Homo sapiens: one gene and its partner. The protein of the gene in region 1 purifies or fractionates together with the protein of each later gene. This does not show direct contact. Each region holds a gene or a part of one and is shown on either strand. Other genes may lie near its edges. The genes, in order: BSDC1 and SERINC3.

Region 1 (3,820 bases):
GAAGCAGTCATGCTGCTCTCTAGTATTTCTACTTTATTGACTGTTTCTGCTTTCCCCCTCTTAACTGCCAGTTCCTGGAGGGTTGGACTAGGTGGAGGGTTTGGCTCATTTCTGATCTCCAGTTCCCATAATGGGGTTTGCTGCATGGCAGGGGCTTAGCTAACAGGAGCTGAAGAGAAGGCAAGGGGGGCAGCAGGGCTGGGAGGGAGGCTGAGCTGAGGATGAGGGATGAGAGGGGCCAAGTCCCTGCAGGGTGGGCAGGACAGCTCAAGTTCAGGAAAGAAAAGAGAACATCCACCCACCCCACAAAGTATAAGGTACACACTAGTCTCACTCTGGTCTCCCTACATAGGGGGTGCCCGGCCTCTGCTACCTGAGACAAACAGGGTCTACAACCCAGCCCCCTTAGTCTACTTGCCCTACAAGCCCACCCGCTCAGTGCTACCCTCTCACCATCTGGTTCATTACAGTAGGTTGCTGGGTCCGACTGCAGGCTATAGAGGCGAGCCTGTAAGAAAAGGAGAAGAGGAAAACAGAAATTCTGAGATACTGGGCATAGAAAGCACCCTTTCTCTGCCAGGATACTCAGTCAACCACAATCCAGCTTCTCCCTTGTTGGCTGGGATACCCCCAGGGCATCTGTTAATTAGCACTGTGGCACAGAGAGTGGGGCACTAGGCTAGGCATCCAAAACTGGGGTTCCCAGAAAAATGGCCTTTCACCCAGTATTCTACCCCAAGAACTAAGAAAATACAGCATAAGCAGGCTACAAAATTATTTGTATAAAATGCTTTGTAGTAAGTAAAATTTGAAAAATGTTAGTGCCAATATGTTAATAAAGTCAAAATTTAGGGACAAATTTTAAAATAACACAATTTCCCTCAAATTAAAACCACTCAAGAATTTATTAATTGTATAGCCAGTCTCTACCAAGTTACGTTCCCACTAGGATCACAGGGTGGCAAACTTAGCTGGCAAAGACAAAGTCCACCTTTCTTCCTCAGTATTGCAGGAAGCATGGGCTATGTGTAAGCGGTCTGGTGATAATTCACTGTCGTTATAGCTCAAAATCTTATCAAACATTTTCACAATTCCACTCACATGTTCACTAAGTGGTGGCGCTAATGCTAGTGCTAAAACACATACTTGAAAAATCAGTACTTTTGGAACAAAAGTTCAATGTGGGCCGGGTGCGGTGGCTCACGCCTGTAATCCCAGCACTCTGGGAGGCCAAGGTAGGTGGATCTCTGGAGGTCTGGAGTTCAAAACCAGCCTGGCCAACATGGTGAAACCCCATCTCTACTAAAAATACAAAAATTAGCCGGGCATGGTGATGTGCGCCTGTAATCCCAGATACTCAGGATGCTGAGGCAGGAGAATCGCTTGAACCCAGGAGGTGGAGGTTGCAGTGAGCCGAGATTGCTCCACTGCACTCCAGTCTGGGCGACAGAGAGAGACTCCATCTCAAAAAAAAAAAAAAAAACAGAAGTCAATGTGATAAAATGCTACAAAGCCAGCCTAGGCAACATGGGGAAACCCTATTTCTACAAGCATAAAAATTAGCTGAGCGTGGTGATGTGTGCCTATAGTCCCAGCTGCTCAGGAGGCTGAGGTGGGAGGAGCACCTTAGGAGATCGAGGCTGCCATGAGCTGTGATCGCACCACTGCACTCCAGCCTGGGGGACAGAGGGAGACCCTATTTCAAAAAAAAAACAAAAAACAAAAAACAAACAAAAAAACTACGAAGAGGGCCCAACTGCCATGACATTATATTGTGAATTTAGAAGAAAACACTCCATGAAATAGAAAATACAATGTGGCCAGGCGCGGTGGCTTACGCCTGTAATCTCAGTACTTTAGGGGGCTGAGGTAGGAGGATCACTTGAGCCCAGGGGTTTGAGACCAGCCTAGGCAGAATAGGGAGACCTCATCGCTACAAAAAAAAAAAAAAAAGGCCAGGTGTGGTGGTGCACGCCTGTGGTCCCCGCTACTAGGGATACTAGGGAGGTTGAGGTGGGAGGAACACTTGAGACCAGGAAGTTGAAGCTGCAGTGAGCTGGGATCATGCCACCGCACTCCAGCCTGGGTGACAGAGTGAGACCGTCTCAAAAAAAAAAAAAAAAAAAAAAGAAGAAGAAAAGAAAATGCAGCAAAAATACGCTACTGTGGCTGTTGCTTTAAGTGCTCTGAAGACACCTCTCTCCCCTTACCTATACGTGTATTACTAGAAATTAGTCTAAATAACCCAAATGTGGAGATTATGCCTCTAAAAATGCTCTCCACAGCGTTCCTTATTATGCTTGAAAGCTGAAAGGAATCCAAATATGCAACATGAAGGAAATAATGGAATAAATAATGCTATATTCACTTGTAAGAATTTAAAGACATTAAAAATTATGGCTGGCTGGGCACAGTGGCTCACTCCTGTAATCCTAGCACTTTGGGAGACCAAGCTGGGAGTCACTTGAGCCTAGGCATTTGAGACCAGCCTGGGCAACACAGTGAGACCCCGTTTCTACCAAAATAATTTTTTTAAATTAGTTGGGTGTGGTGGTTCACGCCAGTGGTCCCAGCTACTCAGGAGACTGAGGTGGAAGGACCCTTGAGCCTGGAAAGTCGGGGCTGCAATGAGCCATGATTGTGCCACTGAGCCCCAGAGAGAGCTTGGGTGACAGAGTGAGACCCTGTCTCATTAAAAAAAAAAAAAAAGATGATTAGGAAAGATGCTATGTTTGTTGATTTTTTAAAAGTAGGTTACAAAACTGCATGTATAAAATGTCTTTTTTGTTCAGAAGAAAAAACCAAACTATCTTTACCTATGTTTATAAACAAAAACAAATGTAAGGTTATATACCAATAAGAAATCAGGGGTTCTCTTTGGGTGATGCAATTGTGAGTTTAAAAATAATTATCCTGTCCTTGCTTACTGGTATTTTCTGATTTACTATTAATAATATACCCATATTTATTTTTTGGCCTGAACATGGGCTGCTTTTGTGAGTACAGGATGGAAGTTAAAGCCCAGGTTACAGATGTTAGGCATCTGCAGGGGAGACTGTCAGTGAATACCTTGGTGCCATCATAGGGCTCAGCTGTGCCAGACGGTGTGCCCATCAGGGTGATGACATCGCAGTCGATGGTTTTGTCTGGCGAAGGGGCAAAGGTGTCTGAGATCACCCCTAGGAAGTCAGATAACCCTTTCTTCATCTTCTCTGTTGCTCCTGAGGAGCCTTCCGTCTGTATAGAGAACGGGCAGAGGAAGCAAGCGCCCCGGGAACAGGCTGCAATCTGGGGTATGGGGGTAAAACATTGGGGCAAAGGTGTACCGTGTGTTGGGGGACCAGGGAAGCGCTCACGACCCTTCACCCGTCTCTGGGGCTGCAGGAGAGGGAGGAGGCAAGGGTCCTCCATCCCCCAAGTGGGGCTGCAGAACAGGGCCATGGTAGGCCTGTGTAGATCAGAGATCTTTGATTGGCTGTTTCATCAAAATTTCAAGGTCAGTCAGGCCGGTCAAAACTTGGCCAGAGAAGGTCCATGCCATAGACACATCAACAGGGAAGAGAGCCTATGGGTAGAGTGGTGGAAAGGGTACTAGCTTCGGAGTTAGACAAAGCTGGTTTGAATCCTTGCTCTACCACTTGTTGGTCATGAGACCGAAACCCTTTCTGAACCTCAGTTTCCTTATTATAAAATGGGGTTAAGTATACATCCTTCATAGGGTTACCATGAAGATTAAAAGATAGGGTATGGACAATGCCTGGCACACAGCATACGCTTAATAAACTGCAGCATTGTAATACTGCAATTTCATCATCATCAT
Region 2 (3,820 bases), on another chromosome or scaffold:
CTGCCATCACATCTGTCTAGTTCGTCGCCCTAAAGGGAAATCCTTTACCCATTAAACCATCACTCCCATTTCCCTTCCCTTCAACCCCTAATCTTCTGTCTCTAGATTCACTTATTCTGGATATTTTATTATATAAATGCACTAATACAGTATGTGACCTTTCATGTCTGGCTTTTTAAATAACTTTGCATGATGTTTTCAGGGTTCACCTGTGTTCTATCATGTATCTATCTATTATGTCTGAATAAGCCATTGTATAGATAGACCAAGTCTCACTCTGTTGCCCAGGCTGGAGTGCAGTGGCATGATTTCAGCTCAATGCAACCTCCACCTCCTGGGTTCAAGCAATTCTCCTGCCTCAGCCTCCTGAGTAGTTGGGGCCACAGGCATGAGCCACCACGCCCGGATAATTTTTGTATTTTTAGTAGAGATGGGATTTCATCATGTTGGCCAGGCTGGTCTTGAACTCCTGACCTCAGGTGACCTGCCCACCTCAGCCTCCCAAAGTGCTGGGATTACAGGTGTGAGCTGCCGCACCCAGCCAGATATACCATATTTTTACTTAGGCCATATTTACTTATCAATTAATGGACAGTGGGTTGTTTCCACATTTTGGTGATTGTAAATAGTGGTGCTGTGAATATTCGTGTACAAGCTTTTGTTTTAATAGCAGTTTCAAACAAAACAGCTATTGGGGTCGGGTATATACTTTCTGGGTCATATGGTCATTCTGTATTTAACTTTCTGAGGAACCTGGTTCCTCTTGAATTGAGCTAAATGGCCCTTGCTGTTATTATTTGTCAGAGGGTTTCCATGTAGTGTTGCTTTATTTTTTTATTTTATTTTATTTTTTTGAGATGGAGTCTCGCTCTGTAGCCCAGGCTGGAGTGCAGTGGCGCAATCTCAGCTCAGTGTGAGCTCCGCCTCCTGGGTTCATGCCATTCTCCTGCCTCAGCCTCCTGAGTAGCTGGGACTACAGGCGTCCGCCACCACACCCGGCTAATTTTTTCTGTATTTTTAGTAGAGACAGGGTTTCACCGTGTTAGCCAGGATGGTCTCGATCTCCTGACCTTGTGATCCACCCGCCTCGGCCTCCCAAAGTGCTGGGATTACAGGCGTGAGCCACCACGCCCGGCATGTTGCTTTATGTTGTAATATCAGCTTTGGTAACTTGGATTCGCAGTAAGCAGCAAGTGGAGTTAGGTTTATATTTTTCTCATATTTTAAAACAAATGATGCTCTCAGAATATAATTAACATTTATTGAACTGTTAATGCATTTTAGGTAGTGTTGAGTGCTCATTTAATACAGCAGAGTCTGAGGGAGGAAAATTCCATTATTGAGCTCATTTTACAAATGGTCAAATGGGGTTAGAGTACGTAACTTGCTGGGGTAAAAAGCGGCAGAAATAATATTTACTCCAGAGCCCGTACTTTTAACCACTTCCTCCCAGCCATGATTCTCTGAGTTAAAACTATAAAGCCTGATTTGCCTCGCTTTCTCTTCTGCGACATCTGTGTCATAAAGGAGTATACTGAAGGCGGTCTCAGGTGACCATGGTGTGCTCATTCCAGGTTCCATGCCTCTGCAGCGGTGCCTCATGTTTGCTGTGTAGTTGCTGTCCTAACAGTAAGAATTCCACGGTGACTCGCCTCATTTATGCTTTCATTCTCCTCCTGAGCACTGTCGTATCCTATATCATGCAGAGAAAAGAGATGGAAACTTACTTGAAGAAGGTAAGAAGTAACAGTGCCCTTAAGGTATTGGTTATTTTTATTTTTATATTCTGCAAAATTCTAGTTTTATTTCGTCGTTGTTAATCAAGTTGGTTGTAATTTGGAGATTTTTTACTTATATGGGGGTGTGGTCAAAACACAGAAATATGAGGACATTAGTCCTTTTCCAGAAATACAGAATGAACATCTGGGCTCCAGTCGAACAACTGAGAGAAAACATTAAAAGGGTGGCTCCAAAACATTTTCTTTCCTTATGTGTTAAAGGTCGAAGCATCTAAACTGGACTAGTTCTTCACCTTTGGAAGGACTCAGTCGTAGCTGGAAAATCTCACAGGAAAGTGGCACACAGCCTCTTCATCCTAAAAGGGCAAAGAAGAGAGACCATATTTTTTTGAAACTAAGACTCACTCTGTTGCCCAGGCTGGAGTGCAGTGACATGATCTTGGCTCACTGCAACCTCCGCCTCCCTGGTTCAAGCAATTCTCCTGCCTCAGCCTCCCGAGTAGCTGGGATTATAAGCATGCACCACCATGCCCGGGTAATTTTTTGTATTTTTAGTAGAGATAGGGTTTTCACCATGCTGGCCAGGGTGGTCTCGAACTCCTGACCTCGTGATCCACCCACCTCGGTCCCCCAAAATACTGGGATTACAGATGTGAGCCACCGTGCCCAGCCGAGAGAGCATTTTTATTTTTAAAATGCATGTTATTTATACTGTTTGGTAACAAGATTGTAAATGAATTGGAAGACAAAGAGAAAAATTCCATAGTCAGTCTTGCAGTTGTTGAAGTAGTTAATTTTCTAAATCCAGGCTTTCCTGCAGTGGGTTAGAGTCTCTGTCTAAATGTAGATATTCTCGTAACATTGAAATTGCTTTTTTCCAGATTCCTGGATTTTGTGAAGGGGGATTTAAAATCCATGAGGCTGATATAAATGCAGATAAAGATTGTGATGTGCTGGTTGGTTATAAAGCTGTGTATCGGATCAGCTTTGCCATGGCCATCTTTTTCTTTGTCTTTTCTCTGCTCATGTTCAAAGTAAAAACAAGTAAAGATCTCCGAGCGGCAGTACACAATGGGTATGTTAGATTTATGATTAACTGGTTACATTATGGTGTGGCTCTTCCTTCCCTTCAGCAGTTAATATAGCCATTCTGATGAAATCAATGGAATATGTAAATGAGTGGCTCAGATGCATTTCTGATCTATTATGCATGTGAAATTGTTTTAATGTCATTTTCAGTTAGATTGCTGTAACATGGAGGGGATAGGGGGTCTTGTCTTTTTATTTTCTTCTATTAAATTCCTTTGCTTCATGTTCTTAGATTTTTATTGAACACCTGTTAAATAGTTGAAGCACTATGCTAGATACTACGTACACACACACTTTTTTCTTTCTGTTGTTTAAAGATAAACATGTACCTGATAAATTTAAACAGTGTACAAAAGTCAGTGAATATATATGTGCTACTGATTTACATATTCTATTGCTTCTGACTCCTGACCACCTTTTACCTATGTTTCTAATTCTCTCCTTTTTTTTTTTTTTTTTTTGTTTTGTTTTTGGAGATGGAGTTTCACTCTTGTCACCCAGGCTGGAGTGTAATGGCGTGATCTCGGCTCACTGCAACCTCCCCCTCCCGGGTTCAAGTGATTCTCCTGCCTCAGCCTCCCTAGTAGCTGGCATTATAGGCACCTGCCACCATGCCTGGCTAATTTTTGTATTTTTAGTAGAGATGGGGTTTCACCGTGTTGGCCAGGCTGGTCTAGAACTCGTGACCTCAGGTGGTCCGCCCGCCTTTGCCTCCTGAAGTGCTGGGCTTACAGGCGTGAGCCACTGTGCCCAGCCGTATTTCTAATTCTCAAAGACTGAATGGCGTTTTATAAACTTGATGTGTATTATAATCCCCTTTTTACAGATGTAGTAACTGAACTGCAGAGAGGTTAATAAATTGTCTGAGACCTGTTAACCAGTTGGAGGTTGGAGCTAAGATTGAAACTTAGATCTGTCCAGCTCCAAAGCCTGGTTCTTTCCACTCTGCCATACAAGGCAGTCATTAAAGATCATGAACTGAAAATCAGGTG

What was found.
Region 2: the proteins of BSDC1 (region 1) and SERINC3 fractionate together in Homo sapiens (co-fractionation; one large-scale study listed by BioGRID). This does not show direct contact.

The regions. Positions count from the first base shown.
Region 1 is NC_000001.11:32,380,761-32,384,580, forward strand, and holds part of BSDC1 (BSD domain-containing protein 1), read right to left. Parts: intron 3,289-3,820; coding exon of another isoform or gene 3,238-3,288; coding exon 3,070-3,237; intron 509-3,069; coding exon 454-508; intron 1-453.
Region 2 is NC_000020.11:44,511,795-44,515,614, reverse strand, and holds part of SERINC3 (serine incorporator 3), read left to right. Parts: intron 1-1,574; coding exon 1,575-1,736; intron 1,737-2,620; coding exon 2,621-2,814; intron 2,815-3,820.